Linked DNA regions of Homo sapiens. The protein of the gene in region 1 interacts with the protein of each later gene in a biochemical or structural test. Each region holds a gene or a part of one and is shown in the gene's direction. Other genes may lie near its edges.

The links.
Region 2: the proteins of PIAS2 (region 1) and SUMO2 form a complex in vitro, tested with the Homo sapiens proteins (4 studies listed by BioGRID).

The regions. Positions count from the first base shown.
Region 1 is NC_000018.10:46,886,419-46,890,072, reverse strand, and holds part of PIAS2 (E3 SUMO-protein ligase PIAS2), read left to right. Parts: intron 1-3,654. UniProt on the Homo sapiens protein: Functions as an E3-type small ubiquitin-like modifier (SUMO) ligase, stabilizing the interaction between UBE2I and the substrate, and as a SUMO-tethering factor.
Region 2 is NC_000017.11:75,176,448-75,180,101, reverse strand, and holds part of SUMO2 (small ubiquitin-related modifier 2 isoform a precursor), read left to right. Parts: intron 1-3,654. UniProt on the Homo sapiens protein: Ubiquitin-like protein that can be covalently attached to proteins as a monomer or as a lysine-linked polymer.

The DNA.
Region 1 (3,654 bases):
ACTAAATGTAATGTCCTCAAGGTTCTAGCATGCTGTAGTTTATGTTAGAATTTCTTTCCTTTTAAAGGCTAAATAATACAATAGTATACATTTTTAAAGAAAAATAGTAATCTTTTGCTCACTCCACTACTCATCCCTCAATCTCACTTTCAAGAGGCAACAACCTTAATTATTTTAGCTGTTTCTTCTGGTTTTACTTCTATATTTCTGTGTTATAGGATACCACATTTTGCTTATCCATTGGACACTTGGGTTGCTCCCACATTTTAGCTATTGCGAATAATTCTGTGGACACGGGTATACACGTATCTCTTTGAGACCCTGCTTTTCAATTCTTCTGGCTGTATACCCACAAGTGGAATTGCTGGATCACATAGTCATTCTGTTTTTAGTATTTTGAGGCATCACCATACTGTTTTCCGTGGCAGCTGCATTTTACATTCCCTTCAACAGTGCACAAGGGTTCCAGTTTCTCCACATCCTTAACAACACTTTTATTTTCCTTTTTTTTTTATAGTGGCCATTATAATGGGTGTCAGGTGGTATCTTATTGTAGCTTTGATTTGCATGTCTGTAATGATGGTGATATTGTGCATTTTCATGTGCTTTTTGGCCATTTATGTATCTTTCAAGAAATGTATAGCCAAGTCTCTTGCCCATTTTTGAATTGGTTTGTTTTATTGTTGTTGAGTTTTAGGAGTTCTCTGTATATTCTGGATATAATCCCTTATCAGATATATGAATGTGCAAATATTTTCTCCCACTCTGTGGTTTGCCTTTTTTACTCTGTTGATAGTGTCTTTTGATGTACAACTTAACATTTTTTCATGAAATTCCAATTTGTTTATTTTTTGTTGTTGTTGCCTATGCCTTTGGTGTCATATCCAAGAAATCATTGCTAAACTTCATGCTGTGAAGGTTTTGCCCTGTGTTTTCCTTTAAGAATTTTATAGTTTTAGGTCTTACATTTAAGCCTGATCTCTTTTGAGTTAATTTTCGTATATGGTATTAGGTGAGTGTCCAGCTTTGTTCTTTTGTTTGTGGATATCCAGTTTTTCCCCACCATTTGTTGAAAAGCCTGTCCTTTCCCTCACTGAATGATCTTAGCACCCTTGTCAAAAAGTATTTGACCATGTATGTGAGGTTTTATTTCCAGGTTCTCTGTTCCAAGGTCTCCAACCCTCAGGCCGTGGACTAGCACCAGTCCACAGCCTGTTAGAAACCAGGTCGCACAGCGGGAGGTGAGCAGCAGGAGGTGAGCAGCAGGAATTCGAGCATTACAGCCTGAGCTCCACCTCCTGTCAGATCAGCAGTGGCATTAGATTCTCATAGGTGCAGGAACCCTACTGTGAACTGTGCATGTAAGGGATCTAGATTGCATGCTCCTTACGAGAATCTAATGCCTGATGATCTGAGGTGGAACAGTTTCATCCAGAAACCATTCCCCTGGCCTGTGGGAAAATTGTCTGCCATGAAACTGGTCCTGGCCAAAAAGGTTGTGACTGTTGATTTATTCCATTGGTCTAGATGTCTGTCTTTATGCCAGTATCACAGTTTTGATTACCGTAGCTATGTAATATGTCTTGGAATCAGGAAGAGTGAATTCTCCAGCTTTAATTATTTTGTAAGATTGTTTTGGCTATTTGGGGCCCTTGAGATTCCACGTGAATTTTAGAATGAGTTTTTCTATTTCTGATAAAAAAAAAAAATTGGGATTTTGAGAGGAATTGTAGTGAATCTGTAAATTTGTTTGGGTAGTATTGATATCTTAGCAATATTAAGTCTTTCTTTTCCCACATAGGCTGATGGGGAAAAAAAAAATTAAGTCTTCCAGTACATGAACATGAGCTGTGTTTCTATTTATTTATGTGTTCTTTAATATCTTTCAGCAATGTTTTATAGTTGTTATTGTACAGGTTTTCATTTTCGTGGTTAATTTTGAAATATTTTTTCTTTTTGATACTATTGTAAAAACTACATAATTTCCTTTTCATCATATTTATTATTAGTTTATAAAAATGCAATTGATTTTTGCGTGTTGACTTTGTATTCTGCTACTTTACTGAATTCATTTATTCTAACAGGTTTTTTGTGTGAAATCTTTAAGGTTTACTGTATATAAGAGCCTACCATCTGTGAACAGGAATAATTTTACTTCTTTCTTTTCTGTTTGTATGCCTTTTATTTCTTTTTCTTGCTTAGTTGCTCTGGCTAGAACTTACTCAAGCATTCTTATGGTGTAGAAATCAGATTGCTTCCGTGTGAATGGGAATAGATACAAATCTTATTTATTGATCCTGATTTTGTATTTTGATACTTTTCATATTTTTATAAAGGGACTTACTTTCCATTTAATGTAGCTTTTAAACTGATTTTCTAAGAAATAAACCTTTTATATTTAATTTTATTTCTAAAGTGGCACAGGGAGTTTGACATGCAGTTTTTTAGCTTTTATTTAATGCCCATCAATTGCTTACAATGTGACTAACAAATTTTTGCATTGCTGTGTTATAATTCTTACTGCCTAATGAAGTTATTTACAAATATATTTGAATTTCTTTATGAAATAAATTGGGAAGTAACATTTCATAGTTGATGTGGAAGATTGCTTTCTTTTCTTTCTTGGGAAAACCCTTTTTATTTTCAGTCATGTGAAAACACTTAAACATATCAGTGTGCTTTTTTACCTGTCTTACAGGATTGTACTGCAGCCTGTCTTGGTTAAATCGGAAGGTTTTGAGGGGTAGAGCTAGTTAGTGGGGTTAGTATGGCCTGACTAGTGGCAGGCAATGTGGCTATTTTTTTTTTTTTTTCAATTTTTTGCTTTTTGCTTTATTTATGTTTTAGCAAAACTGGTGATCCAAGCAAGTGGAGTATTGCATTTTATCTCTTTATTACGTTCACTTTGAAATAAGGATTGAGTGTTTGTTCATGTTTTATTATTTGTTTGTACAAAGTCCTATGAGTAGAATTATTGGATCAAGTAAAAAGAACGTTTTAGACTCTTGATAACATATTGCCAAATTATTTTAGTGCCAGTTTAAATTCCACAAGCAAAGTGAGAGAATGCTTGTCATATCTCATTACTTTTTGCCTTTACTGGGTGCTATTGAAAACAGATCTCTGTGATTTTTAGATGAAAACTTGTATCTTGCTTAAATTTTTATTTTTAAAATTAGTAACAGGAGCAAGTATTTTATTTTATTCGATTTTATTTGTTTTTTTTTGGAGGGGGGGGACAGAGTCTTGTTCTGTCGCCCAGGATGGAGGGCGGTGGCGCTGTCTCGGCTCACTGCGGCCTCCACTTCCCCGGGTTCAAGCAGTTCTCCTCTCTCAGCCTCCCGAGTAGCTGAGGCTACAGGCATGTGCCACCACACCGGGCTAATTTTGTATTTTTAGTAGAGATGGGGTTTCGTTACGTTGGCCAGGCTGGTCTTGAACTTCTGACCTGAGGTGATCCACCCGCCTTGGCCTCCCAAAGTGCTGGGATTACAGGTGTGATCCACTGCACCTGGCCAACAAGAGCAAGTATTTTAAATGCTTATTACCCGGTTGTCTGTCTTTTATGATTTTACTTTCATCTTTAGCCTTGTTTTTAAAGAGTTGATTTATCTGGTTAACGTATTTCCCTAATTTGTTTTCTAATTCCTCCTT
Region 2 (3,654 bases), on another chromosome or scaffold:
CTCAGAGTGCTGGGATTACAAGCATGGGCCACTGTGCCTGGCCCCTTCAGATTGTTCTAAATAGGCTCAAAATAGAATAAGGCTTAAACCTATGTAAGTTGGGAAATTGAGTTTGAGTTTATACTTGAAAGATCAGTGAAGATAAAAACTTCCTTTAGGCCTGATGCAGTGGCTCATATCTGTAATCCCAGCACTTTGGGAGACTGAGGCAGGTGGCAGTTGACATCAGCCTGGCCACCATGGCAAAATCCCATTTCTACTAAAAATCCAAAAAAATTAGCTGGGCGTGGTGTTACACGCGCATAATCCCACCTACTCCGGAGGCTGAGGCTGAGAATCCCTTGAACCTGGGAGGTGGAGGCTGCAGTGAGCCAAGATCACACCACTGCACTCTAGCCTGGGTGACAGAGCGAGAGCATTTCAAAGGAAAAAAAAAAAAAAACTTTAGAATGTTTGAAGTATTTTTATGCCTAGTGTATTTACAATGTAATAAGAAAATACTGTGCTCATAATTGATATGTAAACCTTCTTGTATGTAGTTCCTTATAAAGATACCTTTTTTTTTTTTTTTTTTGAGACAGAGTCTCGCTCTGTTGTCCAGGATGGAGTGCAGTAGTGCAATCTCGACTCACTGCAACTTCTGCCTCCCGAGACCAAGCGATTCTCCTGTCTCAGTCTCCCGAGTAGGTGGGACTACGGGCGCACGCCACCACGCCCAGCTAATTTTTGTATTGTCAGCAAGATGGGGTTTCACCATATTGGTCAGACTGGTCTTGAGCTCCTGACCTCAGGTGATCCACCTGCCTCATCCTCCCAAAGTGCTGGGATTACAGGCGTGAGCCACTGTGCCCAGCAAGATACCATATACTCTTATTTGAAGAATTTTGCTGAAATCACCCTACATGAACTTATGAATTGTGTTAAATAATTTATAAACTGGCATCTTCTATATTTGAACACTAGTGCCCCTTCAGGATACAGGGGAATTTTAAAAGGTAATCCTTTTGGAGAACTTCTTTAGCAAAACTGCATACAAAATAGAAAATCATAGGCTGGGCGTGGTAATCCAGCACTTTGGGAGGCCAAGGCTGGAAGACCAGTCTGGACAACATAGTAAGACCTCATCTGGTTTTTTTGTTTTGTTTTGAGGTGGAGTTTTGCTCTTATTGCCCAGGCTAGAGTGCAGTGGCGCAATCTCGGCTCACTGCATCCTCCGCCTTCCAGTTTTAAGCGATTCTTCTGCCTCAGCCTCCCAAGTCACTGGGATTACAGGACCTCGTGAACCACCCGCCTCAGCCTCCCAAAGTGCTGGGTTTACAGGCATGAGCCACTGCGCCTGGCCCAGACCTCATCTCTTAAAAAAAAATTAGGTGGTTGTGGTGGCACATACCTGTAGTCCAGGCTATTTCAGTGACAGAGGTGGGAGGATTGCTTGAGCTTGGCAGGTCTAGGCTGCAGTGAGCCATGATCTCATCGCTGCACTCCAGTGTGGGTGACAGAATGAGACCCTGTCTCAAAACCACAAACAAACAGAATCATGCTTCAGTTTGGTGGTTTTGAACAGTATTCTTTTCTTTTTTTTTTTTTTTTTTGAGAGTCTCGCACTGTTGCCCAGGCTGGAGTGCAGTGGCACCATCTCGGCTCACTGCAACCTCTGCCTCCTGGGTTCAAGCGATTCTCCTGCCTCAGCCTCCCAAGTAGCTGGGACTACAGGTGCGTGCCACCGTGCCCAGCCAATTTTTGTATTTTTTGTAGAGACGGGGTTTCACAATATTGGCCAGGATGATCTCGATCTCTTGACCTCGTGATCCGCCTGCTTCGGCCTCCCAAAGTGCTGGGATTACAGGTGTGAGCCACTGGTGCCTGGCCTTGAACACTATTCTTATGCATATCTTATTTAACTTTTCTGCAATTGCAAAATTTTGCCTTTTTTTTTTTGAGACAGGCTTTTGCCCTGTTGCCCATGCTGAAGTGCAGTGGGAGGATTATGATCATGGCTCACTGCATCCTCTGCCTCCCAGGCTCAAGCAGTCCTCCCACCTCAGGCTCCCAGGTAGTTGGGACTATAGGCTTGTGCCACTGGGCGATTCTTTTTTTTTTTTTTTTTTTTTTTGAGACGGAGTCTCGCTTTGTCGGTCAGACTGGAGTGTAGTGACATAATCTCGGCTCACTGCAACCTCCACCTCCCGGGTTCAAGCAATTCTCCTGCCTCAGCCTCCTGAGTAGGTGGGATTATAGGCACCTACCACCGTGCTCGGCTAATTTATTTTTCGTAGAAACGGGGTTTTACCACGTTGGCCAGGCTGGTCTTGAACTCCTGAGCTCAGGTGACCCACCCGTCTCGCCACCTCGGCCTCCCAAAGTGCTGGGATTACAGGCATGAAGCACTACGCCTGGCTTTTCTTTTCTTTTTTTTTTTTAAGATGGAGTTTTCCTCTTGTTACTGAGGCTGAATGCAATGGCGCAATCTAGGCTTACTGGAACCTCCGCCTCCCAGGTTCCAGTGATTCTCCTGCCTCAGCCTCACAAGTAGCTGGGATTACAGGCATGCACCACCACGCCTGGCTAATTTTGTATTTTTAGTAGAGACGGGGCTTCACCATGTTGATCAGGTTGGCTGCTCTGAAACTCCTGACCTCAGGTAATCCACCTGCCTTGGCCTTCCAAAATGTTGGGATTATAGGCGTGAGCCACTGCACCTGGCCACCATGCAAATTTTTTAATTTCTTTTTTTTTGAGATGGAGTCTTGCTCTGTTGCCCAGGCTGGAGTGCAGTGGCATGATCTCAGCTCACTGCAACCTCTGCTCCTGGGTTCAAGCAATTCTCCTGCCTCAGCCTCTTGAATAACTGGGATTACAGCGCCTGCCACCTAGCCTGGCTAATTTTTTGTATTTTTATTTATTTAATTAATTAATTTTTTTTTTTTTTTGAGACAAGAGTCTCGCTCTTGCAATGGCACGATCTCGGCTCATTGCAACCTCCACCTCCCGGGTTCATGCAATTTTCCCCCCTCAACCTCCGGCTGGAGTAGCTGGGACTACAGGTGTGTGCCATTGTGCTCAGCCAATTTTTGTGTTTTTAGTAGAGACGGGGTTTCACCATGTTGGACAGGCTGGTCTCGAACTCCTGACCTCAGGTGATCTTCCACCTCAGTCTCCCAAGGTGCTAGGATTACAGGCGTGAGCCACAATACTTGGCCTTTGTTTTTAAGTAGATGATGGTTATATACTGTTTTTCATCCCTTTTATGCCACTGATACTTACTGAGCAGCACCTACTATGTGCAAGGGATAGACTGTGTAACTAAAACAGTCTAGGTTCCTATATCTCCTGAAGTGTGTTTTTTAGTAAGACAGTAAGTAATTACAGATTTGGGTAAGTATTAAAGGAAATTAAAAAGCGGTGCTTTTTTAAAGCTATTCCAGGAAGTTCAAGGGTGTAGGTTGGGGCATTTTAGGTCGGTTTTGTTGTTGTTGTTGTTGTTTTTGATATTGAATCTGGTCTGTCACCCAGGCTGGAGTGCTAGGGCACGATCTTGGCTCACTGCAAACTCCGCCTCCCAGGTTCAAGCGATCCTCCTGCCTCAGCCTCCCGAATAGCTGGGATTACAGGCGGATGCCACCACACTCGGCTAATTTTTGTATTTTCAGTAGA